Linked DNA regions of Homo sapiens. Changing the gene in region 3 together with the main gene of any one other region gives a genetic interaction. Each region holds a gene or a part of one and is shown on either strand. Other genes may lie near its edges. The genes, in order: ITGB7, CSF3R, GCK and PNMT.

Region 1 (4,608 bases), on a different chromosome or scaffold from region 3:
TCACACCGCTGCAGAGGCTCCTGGGCCCAATGCCCGACCCCTGCTGGCCAGCATGGGGCCTAGCACTGGAAGATGCCTCAGGTGTGTTTGGAGTGGGGGAAACGGAAGTAGGGCACGCTCTCAGAGACCAGGATAGAGAGTCAGGGAACCTGGGAAAGAGTAGTGCCAGTTCCGGGTAGGCTGCTGCACCAGGCCCTACCAGCTCAGGCTATAAACAGTCTGCTTTGCCCCAAGTCTTTTCCGTCCACCCCCAACAGCCTTGTCATCACTTAGCTACTGATCACGCCCATGGCTTGACATTGGAGGGTTACATTAGTGGAGTCCGCCACAGCTTCGAACCCTCTCCCCAGATGCCCTTTGCCTCTGCTGTGGCCCTGGGGTTTTATCAACTGTCCCCTTCCTATCCTCCTCTCCACCCTGTTTTTTGTTTTTTTTTTTTTTAAATAATATTTTGCTATGGGGGAGGGGAATATCAAATGGACAAGATCACTTTTAAATGGTAGTTTTTATAAGATGTTATAAACTTGTATCTTTTTACCATTAAAGTGCAGTGTATGTTCCTTCGTGATATATTTAGGATATTTAAATAAAAGGAAAATGGGGCTTTTCTACATACTATCTCCTCTTTGGGGAAGCTTTTTCATACTGGTTTTAGTTGTTTTCCTTTTTTCTCCCTACATAATCACCCCACAACTTCCAGCACCCTATAAGCCATTTTAAAACCCCTTCTCCACAGAGGAACAAGCAAGTAGGAGCAAAAACAGGGCATCAGTTCTGAGCAAGACGAAAAAGCACACGCAGCAGGACGGAAGGAGGCTAGACACCAACAGATGCAGTGTCTCTGACCTGGGACCCCCCTGCATCCGCAGCACTTGAGAATTCATAGGCCCTTTCCAGACCTGGCTTCCTGGGTCCCAGGGTGCACCCCGGGAGTTTCCTGCACATTCGCGCTTGGGCACCTCTCCCTGCCCTCAGGTGGCAAGAGGAGGATGGACAAGAGCTTTCCCGAGGCCCAGGCTATAAACAGTCTGCTTTGGCCTTGATGAGGTAAAGCAAAGTGACAGCTGTGGTCTGAGGTAAGACTTTATTGTATACTTGGGTGGGGTAGCCCAGATGGATGCAAGGTTGCAGGCATGGGAAGCAGCCCTCTTGGGTGTCACTCTGAAAATGAAGTAGGGTGGTGGCCGCACCTCGCCAGTGAATTAGTCCCCTACCAAGGTCTTACAGACCCACCCTTCCTCTCACCCTCCAGTTCCCACTGTCCTCCAAGGAGAAGAGCCTTGGGTAAGTGTCCCTCCCTCCTTCAGAGAGTGGGACTGTCTGCCTCTTGAAAGCGAGGATTGATGGTGGTCGTGATGGCACTTTTGTAGAGAGGATTACTGTCCTGGAGAAAGATGTTGCAGATTATAAGCAAAAATCCCAGGATTCCTCGTCCCCTTTCTAGACCTAAGAGGCCAGCCTTGAGCCGAATCCTAGGAGCTGATGGAAGTTAGCAGAGGGGTTGGTTACATGTGCCAGGGGCTGGGGGAACCCAGTGGGAGGAATCAGGGCTGGTCTTGTGGTGGGGGAACAGCTAAAAAGGGGCCTAACCAGGAAGTCTCCTCACCTGCTTCCAGTTGAGTTGTTGCTGCTCCTTCTCAAAGCGACTGTATTCCCGGCGGTCATAGATTTCCACCGAGAGCCGGTAAGCCAGGACCAGCCCCAGCCCCACTGCCACGATGCCCCCTACGCAGCCCAGCACAATGGCCTGCGTGTGGTCTGCTCCCTCTGTGAACAAGAAACCAGACACACTTGTGGGAGCTGGAGCATAGGGACAGATCATCAGTTGCTCACAGTGTGTCCAGCCTGTCCAACCCTGTCTGTCACTGAAAGCAAAGGGAACCCAGGGAGGTCCAAGGTTATCCTCACCGCCCAGGGCCTTAGCCTCGTCCACTTGCTCAATTGCCTCTGCCTTTGTCCTGGATTCACAGTTCTGCTTCAGCCCCCAGCCTGTTTCCCATTATCTTCACTCTGCATCCCCAGAGTTGAGACCCTGCCCATCAAACTTCCAGGGTTTGTGGCATCCCTGCCCACTTACTTTCTTGGGGTCTCACTCTGAGCACGACCGTGCCTCTGGCGTCATCCTCCACCAAGAAGAAGAACAGCTGGTTGTCCAGGGTCCGCTCTTTGCACCAGCCATCATCCAAGATAGGGGCCAAGGCCAGGGTCACATTGGTATGGGCACAAGCTGTACTGCAGTTGGTGGCCAGTGGGCCAGTCCTGAAGGCCCCACACTCTGCACAGTCCCTGTGTAGTAGATGCCAATAGGTTACCAGCTGGGCAGTTGTCACCCAATGCCCCTTGCCCAACTACAAGCAGGACGGAGAGTAGGCAGATGGGAGTAGCTCAACAAGCCCCACTGTGCCCCTGCTCCCAAGATGCAAGACCTGAGGCCTCACCGGTGTCTCTCGCATGGTGTCTTGCAGCCTGGGCATTGGTCGCATAGAGCACCATAGTAGCCGTCCAAGCACTGGCAGCGGTTGCATTTGCAGCGTCCATGCCCACTGCAGAGCCCTCCCTCGGGACTGATGCAACTGTCCATGTCCCCACTGCATTCGCATGCTCTGCCCGTGCGGTTGGCATGACAGTGACATACTCCACATTGGCAGCGACCAAAGCCTGGGGTAGAGCCATGCAGAGGGTGACAACCATACTCCACACACACAGTTGGCCATCATGTGGCACGACAAGCCCACGCATCCAATCTTTTTGAAGTATGCCAACCACACCCTCTAACCCATACACCGGAATCTTTTGATATTTGCCTTCCATGCCAGGAGATTCCCAGAGCCTAAGTGCCTTGGGAAGGCCTCTCAGACCCCGCCCTTCTCCCCAAGGCTCCAGGTACCTCCGCAGAGGATGCCCTCATGTCGCTCACAGCTGGCATCGTCACACTCGCACAGATGCCCAGAGCTCTGTCCACTGCAGCTGCAGCGTCCACATTGACAGTGACCCTTTCCACTGCACAGGGGCCCTGTGCCATTGGGAGCCCGGCACCCAGATTCCAGGTCTGGGGAGGACAGCTCTGCCACAGAGCACTCACAGAGCCGACCTAGGCGGCCAGGGGCACAGCTGGAAGGGGAAGGCAAAGGAGAGAAGTAGGTCAGAGGGTTTGATCACCCCTGACTTGTCTCTCCCAGGAACCTCTAAACCCAAGTTCTCAAAAGAGTTGGAGACAGACAAACAGCTGAAAGGATGTTAAGTATAGTGAAACACTGAGGGGTGAGAGAGTGGAGGGAGCCCCAGTCAGGGGGAGGGCCTGGACATACATGGGAAGCTTCAAGGGATGAAACTGAGTGGGGAGTCGGGATGTCGAGGAGACTCCTGTGGGGGGGATGGAAAGCAGCGGAGGAATACGGGCCAGGGTTGGTTGGTTGTTGGGAGCCAGGTGGTTGAAGGGAAGAGGAGGCCCTCACCTGCATACACCACATTGTAGGTGTCCCTGGCCATCACTGCAGTGGGGAGCCTGGGGCTGGGTGTCACTGCAATTACAGTCACACAGCGTGTGCAACTCCACAATCAGCTCCTCTGAGAAGCCAAGGGCCCGGAGCCTCAGGAGATGGGGCTCTGGGAGGCAGTGGGTGGCTTGGAGAGAAACCCAGAAAGTCACCTGAGAAGAGGCAGGAATCAGGCCATGGTTATACACATGCACACACACATACCCCAAACTCACCAATCATCCAGAACCTCACCCCTTAGTAAATGAAGGGATGGGGTCATGTTAACACCCAACTCCTAGAAACATGCCTGAGGAAGCCACTCAGACTGCTCCAGGAAGGATGGATGGAGGACTACCTCAGGCTCTCATGTCACTCCCTGTACCTGCCACCCATCTTTTCCTGCCTGCTTAATTTCCCACTCCCACCTCCCCCTGCCCGCCTTCTGCCTGTGCTTGCTGGCTCTCACCGTCTGGTTGATTCGGACGTGGTTGCACTGTCCTCGATCCTCAGCCTTACCCTCCCTCTTCTCAGGACCCTCACACTGGGATTCGTAAGAAATGTGGACCCCAGGAGGGAGTGAAGAGTGTTCAAGGGTCACGGTGGAAGACAGGCTCTATGGGAAGAGAGCGAGTGGATAACCACGTGAAGGCAGAAAAGGACTCCAACCCCACCTTATGTCCTCTCCAGGTGTTCCCAATTCTGCCAGCACCCTGCCCTCTGCCACCTGGGGCTCCTTCCATTCTGCCCAGTCGAGGCATTTCTGGAGGGAGGACCCGTGAGAACCTTGCATAGAACATACAGGATCCAGAGGCCTCTAATACAGCATTTCAGTGCAGCTGCCAGCAAGGGCCACTGAGGGTCACAGGCTGGCCAGGTGCTGTAAATGTACAGAGACCATGTTTGTGAAGCCCCACATCAGGACACATAACCTGGGTGCATGCCAGGTCTAAAGGGCAGATTCATTACAGAGTTTATCTTGGGAAATTTGATACTGTCTCAGATTTTCTTGCCATAGGTTTAGGAGATGCTCCCTGTTATCAAGAAGCCTACAGCCTAGTTGCAGAGGTAAGACCTAAACCACTAAGAATTTTTATGGTTCCTTCTACCTGTAAAATTCTATGGTTCTTGT
Region 2 (5,603 bases), on a different chromosome or scaffold from region 3:
CCAATATCTCTCCTTGTAGCTTCCCCTCCCCACTGCACCCTCATCCTTGGCCATACTCACTTCCGGGGAGCAGCAGGATGATCAGGGCAGCCCAAGTCAGGCTGCAGTTTCCCAGCCTTGCCATAGCACCAACTTGATGTTCACCTGTAGGCAGAAGGGTTGTTTAAGACCATGGGCTTTGGAGTCAGAGCTGATCTTAATCCTTGTCTGTCACTGTGCAGCTTTGACTAGGTTGCTTGACTTCTCTGAGCCTTCGTTTCTTTGCAAAATGGAAGTAACAGCAGCCTATACTGCATGGGACTTTGAGAGGAAGACACAAAATGATGCAAGTCAAGGGCTTTTCACAGTGCCTGGAACATAGGAAATGACAGTGACAGCCACAGTTATTATACTTGCCTTCCAGGAAAGAGCAGGGAAAGGAGCAGTGAGGAAGAGCATTCTTCCGCCTTCCCAGCTATCTAAGCTAGGCTACCCCTAGAGAGCAGAACCTGAGATGAGGAATTGCATGCTGGTAGTTTATTTTGAGAAGATCCTAGCAGCAGATAAGGGACTGGGGAGAATGAAACAGGGAAGGAGAGAAAGCCAGCACAAAGTTACATCATCATGTTGGTCACCTCTATGGACAACTGGGGCTCTATCCTGCTGGAACCTTCCAAAGAGCCATGTAGAACACTTCTCAGAGCTGTCCACTGGAGGGTCAATTTATCCCTTGGATGGGAGGGAAGATGGAAAGATTTACCCACTGACTCCTGCCCCCCATTGGTCAAGGGATGCCTCTTGGGGTGTTCATTCCCTGGCACATCCAGGTTGGGCATGCATGAGTACTAGGCAGGTTCTCCTGGGGAAGCCATGCCAGTGTTGTCAGGGACACTCCCTGGAAGAAAGGGAGAACTCTATGGAGCAGCTGAGGCAAGGGGCTGTCAGGTTATGCCTGCAGGAAGCTGGCTGCCTCAGCCATGTGGGCTGAGAGAATATCAAGTGGGGCACCCGAAGGGTCCAGTGTGCCCCCAATTTTGGGCACAGACCTCTGGTGGCCTTCTGGGGTCAGGCATCATGAGGTCACGGCCATAGCACCTGGATGGAGGGTGCCTTGGCTCCAGTCTTAGGAAGTATGCAGAGGTTTCTACCACTTGGGTGGGTGTCCAGCCTCATCTTCACCCTGCTCCCATTGGGGTCTTGGAGCCAACACCTGATCCTCCAGCACGAGTTGGTGCTCTTGGTGGCAGATCAGTGGGAATCGCTGGTCAGCTTGCACGTACATATCTGGACACATACACGCAGGTGGTGTCCCAGCAGATCCCTCGTGCTCAGCAGGGAGAAAGGTAGGAGAATCCTTTTCTCTTCCTCCCAGACAGAGGTGTGGATAAGAACTGCCCAGATACCCAAGGTTGTTACTGCTCACAGGGGTCTTACCCAAACCCCCAGTCTATCCATGTATATATTGCAGTATCGGAATACCCAGTGACTGCTAGCCCGTAAGTCTCCTTTGTGCAAATCAGAAAGAAAGCACCCCTTCCTCTGGATGGATGCAGCACCACACTAGGACCTGGCAACTAGGGAACAGCCTGGATTTCGGCTCCAGTTACTCCTCAGTTTTGTGCAGTGAGAAACCTGTACAAGTATCCCGAGCATCTGTCTACCCATCGGTGGTTGGTAACCTTCTTACTATAGCATACCAGTTTGATTATCCCCCCGCAACACTGGTTGGGGAAGATTTAGCCTCCAAGGCCCAGATTTTGGGACACTGGTTTTCATCTCCATGTGCTTTTGATCCTATCCCAGCCCTGTTGCCCTAGCCAGGGTCAGCTTCAGGCCCAGCCTATGCCCCGTGCAGTACCACCCTATCCGCCTCCACTGGCTCCTGTCCAGAGTAGACAACCTAACCCCAAGAGGCCCCGGCATCCTTCCCCTGGGTGCTGGGTGTTGGCCTGCTTGGCCTCAGTCTCTGGTCCTCCACTGCAGCCCTGGACGTCCCCCAGCCTGGTTAAGTGGGCCTAGGACCTGTTGGAGCATGGTCTCACTCTCTGGGGGGCCGATATGCAGAGAGGTTTGGAGCCCAGCTCAGATTCAGGTCACCTGACTTGATCTCCAGCTCCGCCACTTACCAGCTTTGTGATCTTGGACAAGTTACTTCACCTTTCCGAGCCGAGCCTCAGTTTCCCCATCTGTGGGAAAGAAATAACATTAGCACTCACTCCTCAGCGTTGTTGTGAGGATGAAATGAGATTATTTTGGTAAAGGCATTTAGCCCTGTGCCTTGCATGGAGTTGGCACTCAGCAACCATAGGTTATTTTCACGAGCCATAAATAGCAGGTCAGCAGCTCACAGAATCCAGCACAGTTCAGTTTTCCCCTCACCCCTGCCTCCCTCACAGCCTGTGTGGTCACACCTCCCAGGACTGCCACCTTGCTTTTGTCTGTGCCACACTGCGCAGTTCCAAAGCCCCCTTTCTGGATCCTCTCCTCCTAACTCCTGGGCCCCCTGGCCCTCCTGTCACTGCGGCCATCTCTGCTGGGCTCTGCAGGTGCTCACTCCTGTGGCCCAGCACAGCTCGATGTCTCCTGGGCTGGCTGCCTTCACATTCCCTCTTTCTGTTTCTCCCTCATCACGCTCAGCCCTCTCCCCTCACACTCTCTTCCCCACTTCACACCCCTCGCTCCCTTGCTGTTTCTACTCTCACCTCGAGATTCTTTCTGTGGGAAGGGTGGGGAGGGAGGAGGGGGCTGGGAATAAACAGAGGGGAGAGGCATTTCCAGATATGCTGCAGATAAAGAAAAAGAGAGAGCAACAGGAAGAGTGACAGAGTGAGGCGGTGACTGAAATCCACACAGACTGAAACGACAGAGAGACTCGCCAAGAGGACGATTGAGGCCAGAGAGATATCGAGAGACAGAGAAAAAGGGCCCAATGTACGCCGACCCAGAGAGTGGGCGGGGGGGGGGCACTCGGAGGCCTGGAGCCCGGGAAGCGTCTGTTACCGAGAGTTTAAGATTCAAGAGATAGCAGGAAATATGCGAGACAGAGAAACTCAGAGAGATAGCAAGCCAGAGAGAAGCTGAGGAGGAAAGATGGAAACAGAGAGTGAAATAGAGACCCAGACGGGGAGGGGTTGCGCGGCTGGAACTCACAGACACACACGTCCTGAGAGACAGAGGCATGGGGAGGGGAGAATGATTATGCCTGTCCCCAGCCCAGCTCAGTGTCCCCAAGGAGATACTTGGCTGTGAGTGACTTCCCTGGTGCAATACCCCCAAAAGTAGGGGCATCCTGTGAAAAGAGACTCAGTGTCCAGGGCTGGGGTTCCAAAGGACGAATCCCGGGCCCCAGGCCTAGGACCCCGGACATGAACACTTGGCAGAGCTGTGGGGAGTGGCCCCAGGATTCCAGCTCTCCATCAAGCCCAAGGCTCAGCCCCTCTCTAGGGATCCCCTACTCACGTTGGCACCTCTGGCCCAGCCCCTGCTTGGCCTCCTTGGTCTCTCTTCTCGTCAAGAGAAGTTCCTGAAACCAGCTGCAGTCCAGCTTCTCTCCCCGAGCTCTGTCGTTAATGGCTCAGCCTCTGACAGGCCCGGGGGCTGGGGATTGCAACACCTTCCGAGCCTCCCTCCTGCCCTCCCTTGCGCCTTCGAGGGCACAGGCAGCCCCTTCCTCCCAGGAAGGAGCCTGTGAGGGAAGCTGGTGAGGCCCGGGCAGCCTTCCTGCCTTGGGGGTCTTAAAGGGCTGGGGAATGTGGCAACGATGTCCCCCTCCCCTGCCTCCGGATTTCCTGAGCTCAAAGCTTTGAGGCTGGGCAGGGCCCAGGCTCCCACCTGGCTGGGTGCCATCCTTATGCCCCCTGCCCTGGGGGAGCATCACTTGGAGGCAGGCCCTGGCTGGAAGGCTCACCCGGCCCTAAGCCTCTTTTCAGCTCTAGCCTTGGGGACCACATCTTCACAGTACTCAGAAGGGTGTGTTCCAGGTTCCAGGGAATTGTGTAACCCAATACTCACTGCTCCCCTCTTCATTACGTATTCTGTGCATTGCCCATAGACCAGGCAGATGGAGAAACAGGAATTCTGGGGGCAAGACAGGAGGACGTCTTGGTGAGGCACGGGGTCTTTATATGTTCACTAAAAATTAGGAATGTTTACCCACAATGGTTCTGCAACACTGAATATTTTGTAATTGAGTGAAATAGACTACATTTTATGTCTTTTATTGTCTGTATTCATGATTCTTCTAAAACTACAAATAATTTTCTTTGCATTTTCTGAGAAAGGTTCAAACTGCTCATAGTTTATTGGATTCATAACCCAAAAAAGGTTAGGTGCCAACAGACCAGCAGACTGTCCTTAACATATAATCCTTTTGAGGCATCTGGGTCTGGTGTGATGCTGCAGACCAGGGCTGTAGTTCTAGTTCCAAGTCAAATGACCTGACTGCCTGCTGCAACCCTCCCAAGATATCCCACAGGCTCTGCTCGCTCAGTGAGTCCCATGGACTCTCTTCTTTCCAAATATAACCAGAATCCTGGGTATTCACTGTAAAGTTCAACTTGGCTCTACGTTTGAATATTTTTATGATAATATTTGGAAAATATAAATATAACTGAAACCAATACTAGCCAGCTCCAAGCTACCCTCATCTATTGCCTAGATAATCGCAATAGCCCCCTGCCTGCTCTCCTGCTTCTATTTCATCCTTGTTCCCGCACCTGTCTGTAATTCCTTCAGCAGCCAGTGCGATATCAATCAAACAGAAGTCTGATCAGCCCATCCTCGTCCCAACCTTTCCAATGGCTCCTGTCTCATTCAGAGTCAAAGTCAAAGCCCTTTGGATGGTCTACAAGGCCCTACAAAACCTGGTATCCCTGTTACCTCCTGGATCCCTCTCCTGTTATTCTCCCCCTTGCTGCCTTGCTCCAGCTACTCTGTGTTCTTTGCTTCTTGAACTTGTTATGCTGTCTCTTGCCTCAGGGCCTTTGCACTTGCTGTTTCATTTGCCTGGACTCTTTCCCCCGCAAATAGCTACATGGGCTGGTCCCTCCCCTTCTTCAGGTCTTTGCTCAAATGTCACTTTCTCATTGAGGCCTTCTCTGAGCACCCTTTTCAAAATTTGCAAGCCCCTTCCCTCCCACTCCCTATCTCTCTCTCCCCCAAATCCCTTTTCACCATCTGATATTGGCTGTCTCAATCCCCACTAGACTGAAAGTTCCATAAGAGCAACAGTTTTTATCTGTTTTGTTCAAAACTTTATCTCCAGTGTCTATAACACTGCTTGCCACACAGTAAGGCCTCCATGCGTGTTTGTTGAATGAATGATCAACTGGATGAATCTTCCCCCACTTCACCAAATCTGTCTCTAATCCCCACGTACCTTGTCATGGTGAATTAACCACCATCCCCTCCTCTCCCTAGTCATGCAGCTCAGGGACTCAGGAGTCATTCCTTACAACCCTTTCTCCACATTCCCATGTCCAGTCAGTTCTTTTAGTTCTTTTTTTTCTTTCTTTCTTTTTTTTTTTTTGAGACAGAGTCTCACTTTGTCACCCAGGCTGGAATGCAGTGGCGCGATTTTGGATCACTGCAACCTCTGACTCCCAGGTTCAAGTGATTCTCCTGCC
Region 3 (5,534 bases):
AGCACACCTGCTTGGGGGCCACCTGGAGCTTTGCACTCTGCACACCTGTCTCAGAGCAGGTGCCATGGCAGTATGGGGGGGCATCTCTCCTGCTGGGGCCCAGGACAATTCCTGCCAGGGATGTGGGTAAGCATGATGGAGTGCACCTTATTCCATCCTCATTCCACTTCTGAGCCTGCTCCTTCAATGGGGCAAAGGTGTCCAGGGCAGCTGGAGGGAGGAAGGTCAGTTCCTCCCGGCATGCCCTCCTGGTGTTACAGATTGAATTGTGTCCCCCCAGATTCATATGTCAAAGCCCTAACCCCAGTGTGATGGTATCTGGAGATGAGACCTTTGGGAGATAATTAGGTTTAGATGAGGTAAGGAGGGGGAGCCCCCATCATAGGATTAGCATTCTTATAAGAAGAGACACCAGAGAGCTTGTTTTCACTCTCTCTCCACGATGTGAGGACACAGCAAGAAGGTGGCGGTCTGCAAGTCAGGAAGAGAGCCCTCCCTGCAACCTGACCATGCTGGCATCTGATCTTGGACGTCCAGCCTCTAGAATAGTGAGAAATAGATTTCTGTTGTTTCTAAGCCATCAGTGGATGGTATTCTCTTATGGCAGTCTAAGCTGACCAATACACCTGAATCTCATCTTTCCAGGCTCCTTCCTGAAAAAAGGTCACCAAATCTATCAGGCAAAGTTAACCAGATTTACTCATCTGTCCTTAGTGAGGTGAGAGTGAAAATATAGACCAAAAGGTCCCCAAGAGGGATGCCCAGGGCCCTATTTCAGGCCACCCAGAAGTGGTGGCCCAGTAAGGGATGAACCTTGATGCCAAAGGAATGAGTCAGCGATGGTGGGGTACCAGGCAACTGCAGCTGGTAAGAAGGGGCTTATGAGGGGTGGGAGTAGTGTCAGTGGAATCAGGCTTGCCCCTAAGGAGCTGACATCCACATGGAGAAGTCACTGGGCACAGGACTGAGGCCACAGGCTCCTGCAACCACAGGTAAGATCTGGAAGGTTGGTACCGGCAAGACGGCTGCTCTCAATCAAAGAAGTAGAAAGAGGGAAACCAGCAACACTTTACTTTCCTCCAAAGCAACCAAAAGGAGAAAGAAGACAGTTCCTCCTCGGTGTCTGCACAGAGACAACCACAGCTGACGTCTTGGGGACAACTTTGAAAGTGGAAGGAGGGCATTGCTCATTGCTCCAAGGTCAAACACTGGCTTGGGGTAGGGGCAGCACTTCCCAGAGACACAGGACTGGACTGAACCTGGGTGGGCCTGGACAGCCAGCTCACTTGGAAAACATCAGATCCTTAGGATGACCCTAAAACCAAGATAGGTTCCCCCAAGACAAGGACTGAGTCCTCTGTGCAGCCAGAACAGGCAGACAGGAGTGGCCATTGCAGCTCCACGCTTCCCTCATCCAGGCCTTGGCACCCTGCGATCCAGGCACTAGAAGAGGGGTAGACTGGGTGGAGAAAAGTGCAGAAGCCAGTGATACTCATCCTGCCTTTGTTTAGAATTTGGTATGTTGTCCATCATAAATTTTTTTTGCATTCATTTTGATTATTTAAAATAGCATATATCTTGATGATTGATGTTTCTGGTGACCCCTTAAAGTTTGTGCCCGAGGCATTGCCTTGCTCCACTCTTGGCCCTGACAAGAATGTCAGTGACTTCCCAGGATTCTGGGGTTCACAGCTGGCCCTGGTCAGGACCAGCAACCCCTCACACGTGGAGCAGATAAAGGATGGGGCATGGGCAGCCCCAGAGTCTGAGACTGGATGCCCAGCCTAAGAAGGTGGTTCACTCACATGCCACTGTGAATGCAAGGGGCTCAGGGACAGCTCTGCTGTGGCCTTTATTAAAGTGATTCCCTGTGCACACATATGTGCACATGCATGTACACATGCAGGTATGCACAGGCACAAACATGCACACATAGCACATTCACACATAGGCACACTATGCTTTCTCTCCTTGTTTGGGGAAAGTGCCAGATCTCCACAGCCCACATGTCCACCTCTCCCTAGCTCCGAGCCATCTTTCTGGTCATGCCAAAGACAGCCGCTTCCTTCTCCCCGGGTGGCCTGAAGGGGCCCTTTGGGCAGGATTTCTCATCCAAATTGCTGCCATAGCACCAGTGACAGGCAGATCTGGGACTTGGTTGGGGCCTCGGCCGGTCCAGCTGTCTGGCTGCGCACCCTCTCACTTGGGTTGGTTGTTTTCCTCCTAACATCATTAGCTCTGCCAGAAGCACAGCCAGCCCGGGGTTTATGCTGACCTGGTCATTTCACACAGAGGCGAGAGGGAAGCATGCCCAAAGTGACTGGCTCTGCCCACTTACCCCTTCTCCCCCACTCTGCCTGGGCCCCCAGCTGGGGTGATGCAGGCACATTCCCCCCAGTGTTTCACAGCAAAGTCCCCTGTCTCCAGCTCTCTCCTTGCTCACTGCTGGGCTCAGGGCTGGCTCAGAGCATGCCTGGATTTCTCTTTGTTTTTGGAAAAAGTAACTGCCCTGCACTCCTCAGCAGGCCACAGCAGCCCTCGGGCTCCCTGCGAAGTGATTCCTGGTAGGAGGCAAGGCATCTTTGACTTGTCACCATGTCTAGTGAGTGTTGTCTCAAAATCAGGTAGTGGGCTTTGTCCACAAGACCTCATGTCCCTAACCCCCACATCTAGGGCTCTAAACTCTCCAGAGCCCCTCCCCAGTGGAGGCCACTGCCTGGACCTCTTGGCAGCCTGACTTCCGGGTCGCAGGACCAGAGTCCAAAGCTGGATGGGTCTGCCAGGCAGTAGGGGCCTTCCTGCCCCAGAAGGCACCCCTGGCAAGACCCTTCTCAAAGAGCCTGTGCATAAAATCAGATTCTGAGGCTCAAACAAACCATGGAATGTTGGGGACAGGCAAGCAAACACTCCCAGAATGCCCAATGGAGGGCGAGATACCTTCTCCTTCTTGGCGGCCTCCATCCTGGCTCTGTCGTCCAGCATCTGCACAGCAGCCAGCGTGGGGAGCTGGGACCCCTCAGCCTTCCCCAGTAGGCTTCTGAAGTGGAAATATCCAAGGCTTCTCCGCCGCAGGGGTCACGGCCCGCCCTGGGTCCCTGGGAGAATGTGGTTCTCCTCGGGCTGGTTTGGGGTTTGAGGTTCAGTCACAGTTTCCTCCTTTTCATTGTTCTCCAACGAGTCGGCAAGCATTCCCTTCTGGACCCTTCCTCACTGAGCCTGGATGTTCTCCAGGCAGGGCCATTGCTGGGCGCTTGGGTGGCGTCCTCAGCGCTTTCTCTCCTGGTTGTGTTGAGCTGTGGGGCTTAGTGTCCTTCAGACAGATTCAGTGGGAAATGTCCTCTCCCTTCTGTGACCTGGGGACAGCTTTTGAGTAATTAGGCTGCAGGTGACTGTGTCTCTCACATCCTAGCCTGCTTCCCTGGGGCTCAGGCGCCGCTCGGCATTTCCTGCTCCAGCCAGGTGTGGAGTGGGGGATTCTCCTGCCAGGGCTTACTGTGCTCCTGAGAGGGCCTGTGGTTGTCATGGTGACCAGGAGTGGCCTCAGCAGGGCTGACCATCCTGTCATTAGAGCTGCCATGCATAAAACTGGGACTGGTGGCAAAGAGCCTCCATCCCCATCACCATGGTGACCACTCAATCGCCTTGTCACTACAGTGACCGCTAGCCTGTTAAGCCTTTGCCACCTGTTCAGATCCTGGGGCAGTGTCTCAGGGTCTCCCACACTCCTGTTCTGATGAGCAGAGGATCCCGTGAGTCTGGAAGCAGAGGAAAGGGAGCAGGCAGCTTGGCGTGGCTCAGGAGCAGGCCCCTGGGACCATCTCACATCCCTAACCCCCCTATCTAGGGCTGTAAACTCTCCAGAGACCCTCCACAGTGGAGGCCACTGCCTGGACCTCTTGGCAGCCTGACTTCCAGGTCGCAGGGCCAGAGTCCAAAGCTGGACAGGTCTGCCAGGCAGTAGGGGAGCCCATCGGAGGGCTTTGGCGCGGCCTGCCCTGACTATCTCCTTGAAATCTGAACCAGAACAGTACACCTGGCCCACACAAGCCTGGCTGAGGTTGACACTGTCAGAACAGAGGCCCACAGGGACTGGCTCCTCCTCTGGCCCTGCTCAGGAAGCTTCAGCCTGGGATGCCACCCACTCTCCCCTTCGCAGCCCAAGTGCCCCTGGAGAGGTTGCCCTGTGCAGTGGGGAGTCCCAGTGAGTGGATGGAGCAGGGGGCCAGGGTGCTGGAGCCAACTCAGCTGCGGGCTCAGTCAATAGTCTGGAACAAAACATACTTCTGCCTAAGTCACTGAGGTCTGGTGTGTTTTTCCCACTCGTGGCCCTTCTCAGTCAGGATCGGCCACTTTTCAAGTGTCCAGCGTGACTGGTGGCTACCATATTGGGTAGTGTCGGTATAGACCAAAGAGGGCTCAGGACCCAGCTCCAGGCCACCTACGCTCAGAGGTCCAGCAGAGGGGGTGAGGAGGAGTGGCCAGTGCGATCTCTCCAGACAGATGTGCTGTAACACTTTAAAATCAACTTCCTATTGACGGTCATTGAGGCAGTTTCAGATTTTCACTATTACGAAGCAGGCTGTGGCAGAAGTCCTTGAATTTCACCGGAGTCTAAGTGTGTGTCAGTGTTTCTTCTGGATGGCTCCTGGAGGCTGAATTGCTAGTTCAAATGCTGTACACATTTTACATCTTGGTAGGCAGGACCACGTGGCCTCTTCACATGGCTTCACCAGTTTCTTCTGCCAACACGAGAAGTTTGGCTTTATCTTGGCCAATCCTTCAGATGATAAATCTTTATGAGTTTTTTGCCGATCTGTCACCTCATTGTTGCTTGAATTGCAAAATGCTGGACACCTTTTCATGTGTTTCTTGGTGATTGCATTTCTTCTTCTAAGGATGATTTGTTTACATTACTTAACTATGTTGCTATTGGATTATCTTCTGCCTATGGACTTGGAGAAACTATTTTATATTTCATCTGTAGTATCTATTAATCCTTTGTCTGTTAAATATACTATGATATCTCCCCTAGTCTATTGCTAAACTTAACAACTTGATTAATCGTGTCTTTCATCATACAGAAGTATCTAGTTTTTATGAATTTCAACCTTTGTTTTCTTGTTTTGGGGTTTTTATATCTTGTTAAGAAAACCGTTTCCAATCCCCAAATTGCAAAAATGTTCTCCCACATTTCCTTCTAATATTTTTCCAAGTTTTCTATTTGTTCAGTACTTTAGTCTTTCTGCAATTGCTTGTGCTGCGTGCACCGCCATTATGAGGGCACACCTCACATCCTCGCCTTTCTTCTCATTCCTCTTTTCTGCTCTCCCGGGTCCTGGGAGATGGTGGTTTGGGTATGGTGCAAGGGAATCTCTAATATGGCTATTTGGTGGTGAAGCAATCCCTTCCCCACTGCTCTGGAATGTTGGCTTTCTTATAAATCTTAGCACTACTCATCCCACTTCGGAAAATAATGCTGTTGACAATTTCATTGGAAATACATTGACTTTGTGGGTTTAGGGATTCATTTTAGA
Region 4 (5,147 bases), on a different chromosome or scaffold from region 3:
CAGTCTCCTTCCCGTACCCTGACCGCTGCCCAGTCCTGGCTTCTGTGTCCAGCCCCCTGGCACTGGGTGGTAACCAGCAAGCCAGCTGGCATCCGCATCCAGGGTTTGTTTCAATGATGTCTCGTGGAGAATATGGAGGGGCTGGTGCCAGGACTGTCCTTGGCTTTGCCTCGGGGTGTGAACGGGGTCAGTGACCTCTAAAACTAACCTGCCTCTCAGTTCTGAATCCAGACAGAATCAATCCTCAGCTGTGTCTCGCTCCACACCCCCTGCCCTGGAAGCCAGGGAAGGTTGGAGGTGCTAGGGGGTCAGGCTCCCCTCTGTGACCCCTGCAGCTGTTGTGGTGACTCATGTCCCAACCTAGCTGCCTCTCCCAAGGAGACTTTCCCCTGGGGACAAGGGGGAGGGAATGGCATGGAGGAGGCCCACATCAAGCGGGGCCAGGAACCCACGGTGGCAGGAGCTGGGCTGGTGACCTACCCAGGGCAGAAGGGCCCGGGACTCATCCAGAGGGGAAGGAAGGGGTCTTCAGGAAGACCACGGAGATGCCACAGGCAGAATTGGCTTCCCATCTGGGAGATAGGTGGGGAGACCCTGGCATTTTGACAGCCAGAACCTGGGGTGCTGAGCAGAATCTTCATGCCTGGCCTGGCCGCTCCTTCGGAGGGAAGCTGGAGGGTGGGCTGCGAGAGGAGTGGGGTCAGAGCCCCTACATCCGCAGGACCCCAAATCGGCTGGGCCCCAAGGCCCGGACTGCGCTCCCCGGTGGCCCCGGCGGCCCTCCGCGAATGCGTCCTGCCCCTCCCCTGCCCAAGCCCTCTGCCCTCACCCGGGTCCGGCGCCGCCCCCGAAGTGGCGGGAACAACCCGAACCCGAACCTTCTGTCCTCGGGAGCCCCCAGATAAGCGGCTGGGAACCCGCGGGGCCCGCAGGGGAGGCCCGGCTGTTCCGCCCGCTAAGTGCATTAGCACAGCTCACCTCCCCTATCGCGCCTGCCATCGGACGGGCAGTGCCGCGCCCTGCTCTGGGGCCCCCGGAGCGACCACAGCGGAGGCCGGAACGGACTGTCCTTTCTGGGGCGGGGTGGGGAGGGGGTGTCGCTGGAGGGCCCGGTGGCATAGCAACGGACGAGAGAGGCCTGGAGGAGGGGCGGGGAGGGGGAGTTGTGTGGCAGTTCTAAGGGAAGGGTGGGTGCTGGGACGGGTGTCCGGGAGGGAGGGGAGCCTGGCGGGGTCTGGGGCCTCGTCGCGGAGGGCGCTGCGAGGGGGAAACTGGGGAAAGGGCCTAATTCCCCAGTCTCCACCTCGAATCAGGAAAGAGAAGGGGCGGGCTGCTGGGCAAAAGAGGTGAATGGCTGCGGGGGGCTGGAGAAGAGAGATGGGAGGGGCCGGCCGGCGGGGGTGAGGGGGTCTAAAGATTGTGGGGGTGAGGAACTGAGGGTGGGGGGCGCCCAGAGGCGGGACTCGGGGCGGGGCAGGCGAGGCGGAGGGCGAGGGCTGCGGGAGCAAGTACGGAGCCGGGGGTGTGGGGGACGATTGCCGCTGCAGCCGCCGCCCCACTCACCTCCGGTGTGTCTGCAGCCCGGACACTAAGGGAGATGGATGAATGGGTGGGGAGGATGCGGCGCACATGGCCCCGGGCGGCTCGGCGGTCAGCTGCCGCCCCCACAGCGGACCGGTCGGGGCGGGGGTCGGGCGGTAGAAAAAAGGGCCGCGAGGCGAGCGGGGCACTGGGCGGACCGCGGCGGCAGCATGAGCGGCGCAGACCGTAGCCCCAATGCGGGCGCAGCCCCTGACTCGGCCCCGGGCCAGGCGGCGGTGGCTTCGGCCTACCAGCGCTTCGAGCCGCGCGCCTACCTCCGCAACAACTACGCGCCCCCTCGCGGGGACCTGTGCAACCCGAACGGCGTCGGGCCGTGGAAGCTGCGCTGCTTGGCGCAGACCTTCGCCACCGGTGAGCGGGGGAAACTGAGGCACGAGGGACAAGAGGTCGTCGGGGAGTGAAAGCAGGCGCAGGGAAATAAAAAGAAGGAAAGGGAGACAGACCAGGCGCCTAACAGATGGGGACCAAGAAACAAGAGATAGCTGAGAGGTGCAAACAGAAGAGAAAAAAGAGCAACATCCCTTAGGAGAGGGGCAGAGGAGAGAGAGGTGGAGAGAGGGGGCGGAGAGTGCTCAGAATTGAGAGCTAAGGTGGGGGATGCAGGACAGACTGAGGTGGAGATGCATAGGAGGAAATGGAGGCAGATGTGGGACAGGGGTGAGAAACTGCCAGGATTTCCTCGCTGAGCCTGGCTGGTAGGTATAGTTGTTTTCTTTCTTTTTCTTTATTTTATTTTCATTTATTTACTTATTTTTATTTTTTATTTGTTTTGAGACGGAGTTTCGCTCTTGTTGCCCAGGCTGGAGTACAATGGCGCCATCTCGGCTCACTGCAACCTCCGCCTCCCCGGTTCAAGCGATTCTCTTGCCTCAGCTTCCCTAGTAGCTGGGATTACAGGCATGCGCCCCCATGCCTGGCTAATTTATTTGTATTTTTAGTAGAGACGGGACTTCTCCATGTTGGTCAGGCTGGTCTCGAACTCCCAACCTTAGGATCCACCCACCCCGGCCTCCCAAAGTGCTGGGATTACAGGTGTGAGCCACTGCGCCCGGCCAGTAGGTATAGTCTTCTAGATGTGAAACCTGAGTCTCAGAGCGGTGAAGTTCCCTTCCGAAGGGCAGCCCATGTTGGAGCTGGGTTCAGTCTAACTCTGGGGCCAATGCTTTTTCCAGATGGAGACACATTTGCAGAGGAGAAGGAAGAACTAGAGAGAGGCAGGGAGATGCAGGGGAGGGAAGGGTAAGGAGGCAGGGGCTGCCTGGGCTGGCTGGCACCAGGACCCTCTTCCTCTGCCCTGCCCAGGTGAAGTGTCCGGACGCACCCTCATCGACATTGGTTCAGGCCCCACCGTGTACCAGCTGCTCAGTGCCTGCAGCCACTTTGAGGACATCACCATGACAGATTTCCTGGAGGTCAACCGCCAGGAGCTGGGGCGCTGGCTGCAGGAGGAGCCGGGGGCCTTCAACTGGAGCATGTACAGCCAACATGCCTGCCTCATTGAGGGCAAGGGGTAAGGACTGGGGGGTGAGGGTTGGGGAGGAGGCTTCCCATAGAGTGGCTGGTTGGGGCAACAGAGGCCTGAGCGTAGAACAGCCTTGAGCCCTGCCTTGTGCCTCCTGCACAGGGAATGCTGGCAGGATAAGGAGCGCCAGCTGCGAGCCAGGGTGAAACGGGTCCTGCCCATCGACGTGCACCAGCCCCAGCCCCTGGGTGCTGGGAGCCCAGCTCCCCTGCCTGCTGACGCCCTGGTCTCTGCCTTCTGCTTGGAGGCTGTGAGCCCAGATCTTGCCAGCTTTCAGCGGGCCCTGGACCACATCACCACGCTGCTGAGGCCTGGGGGGCACCTCCTCCTCATCGGGGCCCTGGAGGAGTCGTGGTACCTGGCTGGGGAGGCCAGGCTGACGGTGGTGCCAGTGTCTGAGGAGGAGGTGAGGGAGGCCCTGGTGCGTAGTGGCTACAAGGTCCGGGACCTCCGCACCTATATCATGCCTGCCCACCTTCAGACAGGCGTAGATGATGTCAAGGGCGTCTTCTTCGCCTGGGCTCAGAAGGTTGGGCTGTGAGGGCTGTACCTGGTGCCCTGTGGCCCCCACCCACCTGGATTCCCTGTTCTTTGAAGTGGCACCTAATAAAGAAATAATACCCTGCCGCTGCGGTCAGTGCTGTGTGTGGCTCTCCTGGGAAGCAGCAAGGGCCCAGAGATCTGAGTGTCCGGGTAGGGGAGACATTCACCCTAGGCTTTTTTTCCAGAAGCTTCCTTGAGGCTAGCATTCTGTACCACTCATTCTTCCCAAACTAAGGAAGGCCAAGGTCAGGGGAGCTCACCGGGCACCTGCAGTGCACCAGGCACTTGTGATATGCCATTGTGTCCATCGCATCATTCATTCCTGCATTCAGCAGCAGGTCCTGCTAGTCTGTTTCCAGGTGAAGCTCAGAGAGGTGAAGTCACAAACAGTGCAGACTGCTTCAGACCAGAACGAGGGAGAGTGGGGATCATGAGGAGATGGAAGTAGAATCTGCAAGGTGGTGGGGAGGTGGGGGTGTTATGATTGAAGCACAATGGCCGAGGGAAGTGAAAGGGAAAGAACTGGCTCCAGCTCCCTCTCACAACTGGACTTGAGTTCTGCCCAGCTCTGCCTCTGGGGCCTGCCATTCCCCATGCCACGTGCCCAGGCAGAGACCTCACCTCTGTTTACTGCCTCCAGCCAGCTCTGGGACCTGCCCCTGCCGCCACAACTGTCTTCTCCTGCCCTCCAGCCCACCCTATTCACACAAATGAGCTGAACAAGGGCAGGTGAGGCTTGGAATTGATTTATTAAGCACATCCCTTGCCACCCTCCCACCTTAAAAGTTTTCAGTATCAAAAGAAGCTAGCGCAGGCCACCCGAGTCCCTGAGGTTGGAGTCCTAGCATAGCTCCCCTCCCTCAAAGAGGGACAAGGGGTCAGGGGCAGAGCAAAAATCCAGTCTGCTTCAACCACGGAGACTGCCTTTGGGATGGAAAGTTTCTGGAGCTCCCTCCATTCTATTCCTGTGGGGCAGGAACATGCCAGGGCTGCTGGTAAATGGCAGGGGTCACCTTTACCAGGGCGCAGGCATAGTGTGGCCCCTGCCTGCCCTGGGGCCACCCTGGAACAGTAAGACCCTCTGGGAAGGGAAGAAACCAGACCCAGCCATAAGCTTTCTCCCCTTCTCCCTCAAATCGCCCCTTCCTCCTCCCCAAAATCAGGCTATGGCAAAGGGGCTGGCAGCAGGGGAATGGAGGTTTTGGAGGGGAAGGCCAGCCATGCGAAGGCAAGGAGAAAAGGAGGATGGAGAGAGCCCCAGCCATCCCCATTTTCCTTCCTCTGCCTCCGAGGGGCTGCTTCTGGAGGGCACTGTTGTGTGGGGACCCTGTGAGGTTTGCAGGAGGCGGGCAAAGGGGCACCAGACAGGGAACATGCACACAGGCAGCCTGGCCATGGAGAGCTCCTGGCTGTCCGCCCAGGTGGCGCCTTGGGCAGAGCTGGCGCTCCACAAGTGATTATTGATGGTGACAGGATTCCC

The links.
Region 1: changes in GCK (region 3) and ITGB7 together harm fitness more than expected from each alone (negative genetic interaction), as found in Homo sapiens cells (one large-scale study listed by BioGRID).
Region 2: changes in GCK (region 3) and CSF3R together harm fitness more than expected from each alone (negative genetic interaction), as found in Homo sapiens cells (one large-scale study listed by BioGRID).
Region 4: changes in GCK (region 3) and PNMT together harm fitness less than expected from each alone (positive genetic interaction), as found in Homo sapiens cells (one large-scale study listed by BioGRID).

The regions. Positions count from the first base shown.
Region 1 is NC_000012.12:53,190,253-53,194,860, forward strand, and holds the end of ITGB7 (integrin beta-7 isoform a precursor), read right to left. Parts: exon of another isoform or gene 4,093-4,608; coding exon 3,946-4,092; exon of another isoform or gene 3,650-3,945; coding exon 3,456-3,649; exon of another isoform or gene 3,112-3,455; coding exon 2,888-3,111; exon of another isoform or gene 2,659-2,887; coding exon 2,439-2,658; exon of another isoform or gene 2,287-2,438; coding exon 2,078-2,286; exon of another isoform or gene 1,768-2,077; coding exon 1,607-1,767; exon of another isoform or gene 1,480-1,606; coding exon of another isoform or gene 1,447-1,479; exon of another isoform or gene 1,385-1,446; coding exon 1,304-1,384; 3' UTR 1,071-1,303; downstream 1-1,070. UniProt on the Homo sapiens protein: Integrin ITGA4/ITGB7 (alpha-4/beta-7) (Peyer patches-specific homing receptor LPAM-1) is an adhesion molecule that mediates lymphocyte migration and homing to gut-associated lymphoid tissue (GALT).
Region 2 is NC_000001.11:36,479,373-36,484,975, forward strand, and holds the start of CSF3R (granulocyte colony-stimulating factor receptor isoform a precursor), read right to left. Parts: upstream 3,542-5,603; 5' UTR 3,439-3,541; intron 2,166-3,438; 5' UTR 2,106-2,165; intron 709-2,105; exon of another isoform or gene 615-708; intron 145-614; 5' UTR 125-144; coding exon 61-124; intron 1-60. UniProt on the Homo sapiens protein: Receptor for granulocyte colony-stimulating factor (CSF3), essential for granulocytic maturation. Plays a crucial role in the proliferation, differentiation and survival of cells along the neutrophilic lineage.
Region 3 is NC_000007.14:44,185,972-44,191,505, forward strand, and holds the start of GCK (hexokinase-4), read right to left. Parts: upstream 3,469-5,534; 5' UTR 2,983-3,468; coding exon 2,938-2,982; intron 1-2,937. UniProt on the Homo sapiens protein: Catalyzes the phosphorylation of hexose, such as D-glucose, D-fructose and D-mannose, to hexose 6-phosphate (D-glucose 6-phosphate, D-fructose 6-phosphate and D-mannose 6-phosphate, respectively).
Region 4 is NC_000017.11:39,666,725-39,671,871, forward strand, and holds PNMT (phenylethanolamine N-methyltransferase), read left to right. Parts: upstream 1-1,728; 5' UTR 1,729-1,751; coding exon 1,752-1,953; exon of another isoform or gene 1,954-2,297; intron 2,298-2,904; coding exon 2,905-3,112; intron 3,113-3,226; coding exon 3,227-3,665; 3' UTR 3,666-3,751; downstream 3,752-5,147. UniProt on the Homo sapiens protein: Catalyzes the transmethylation of nonepinephrine (noradrenaline) to form epinephrine (adrenaline), using S-adenosyl-L-methionine as the methyl donor. Other substrates include phenylethanolamine and octopamine. Also methylates normetanephrine.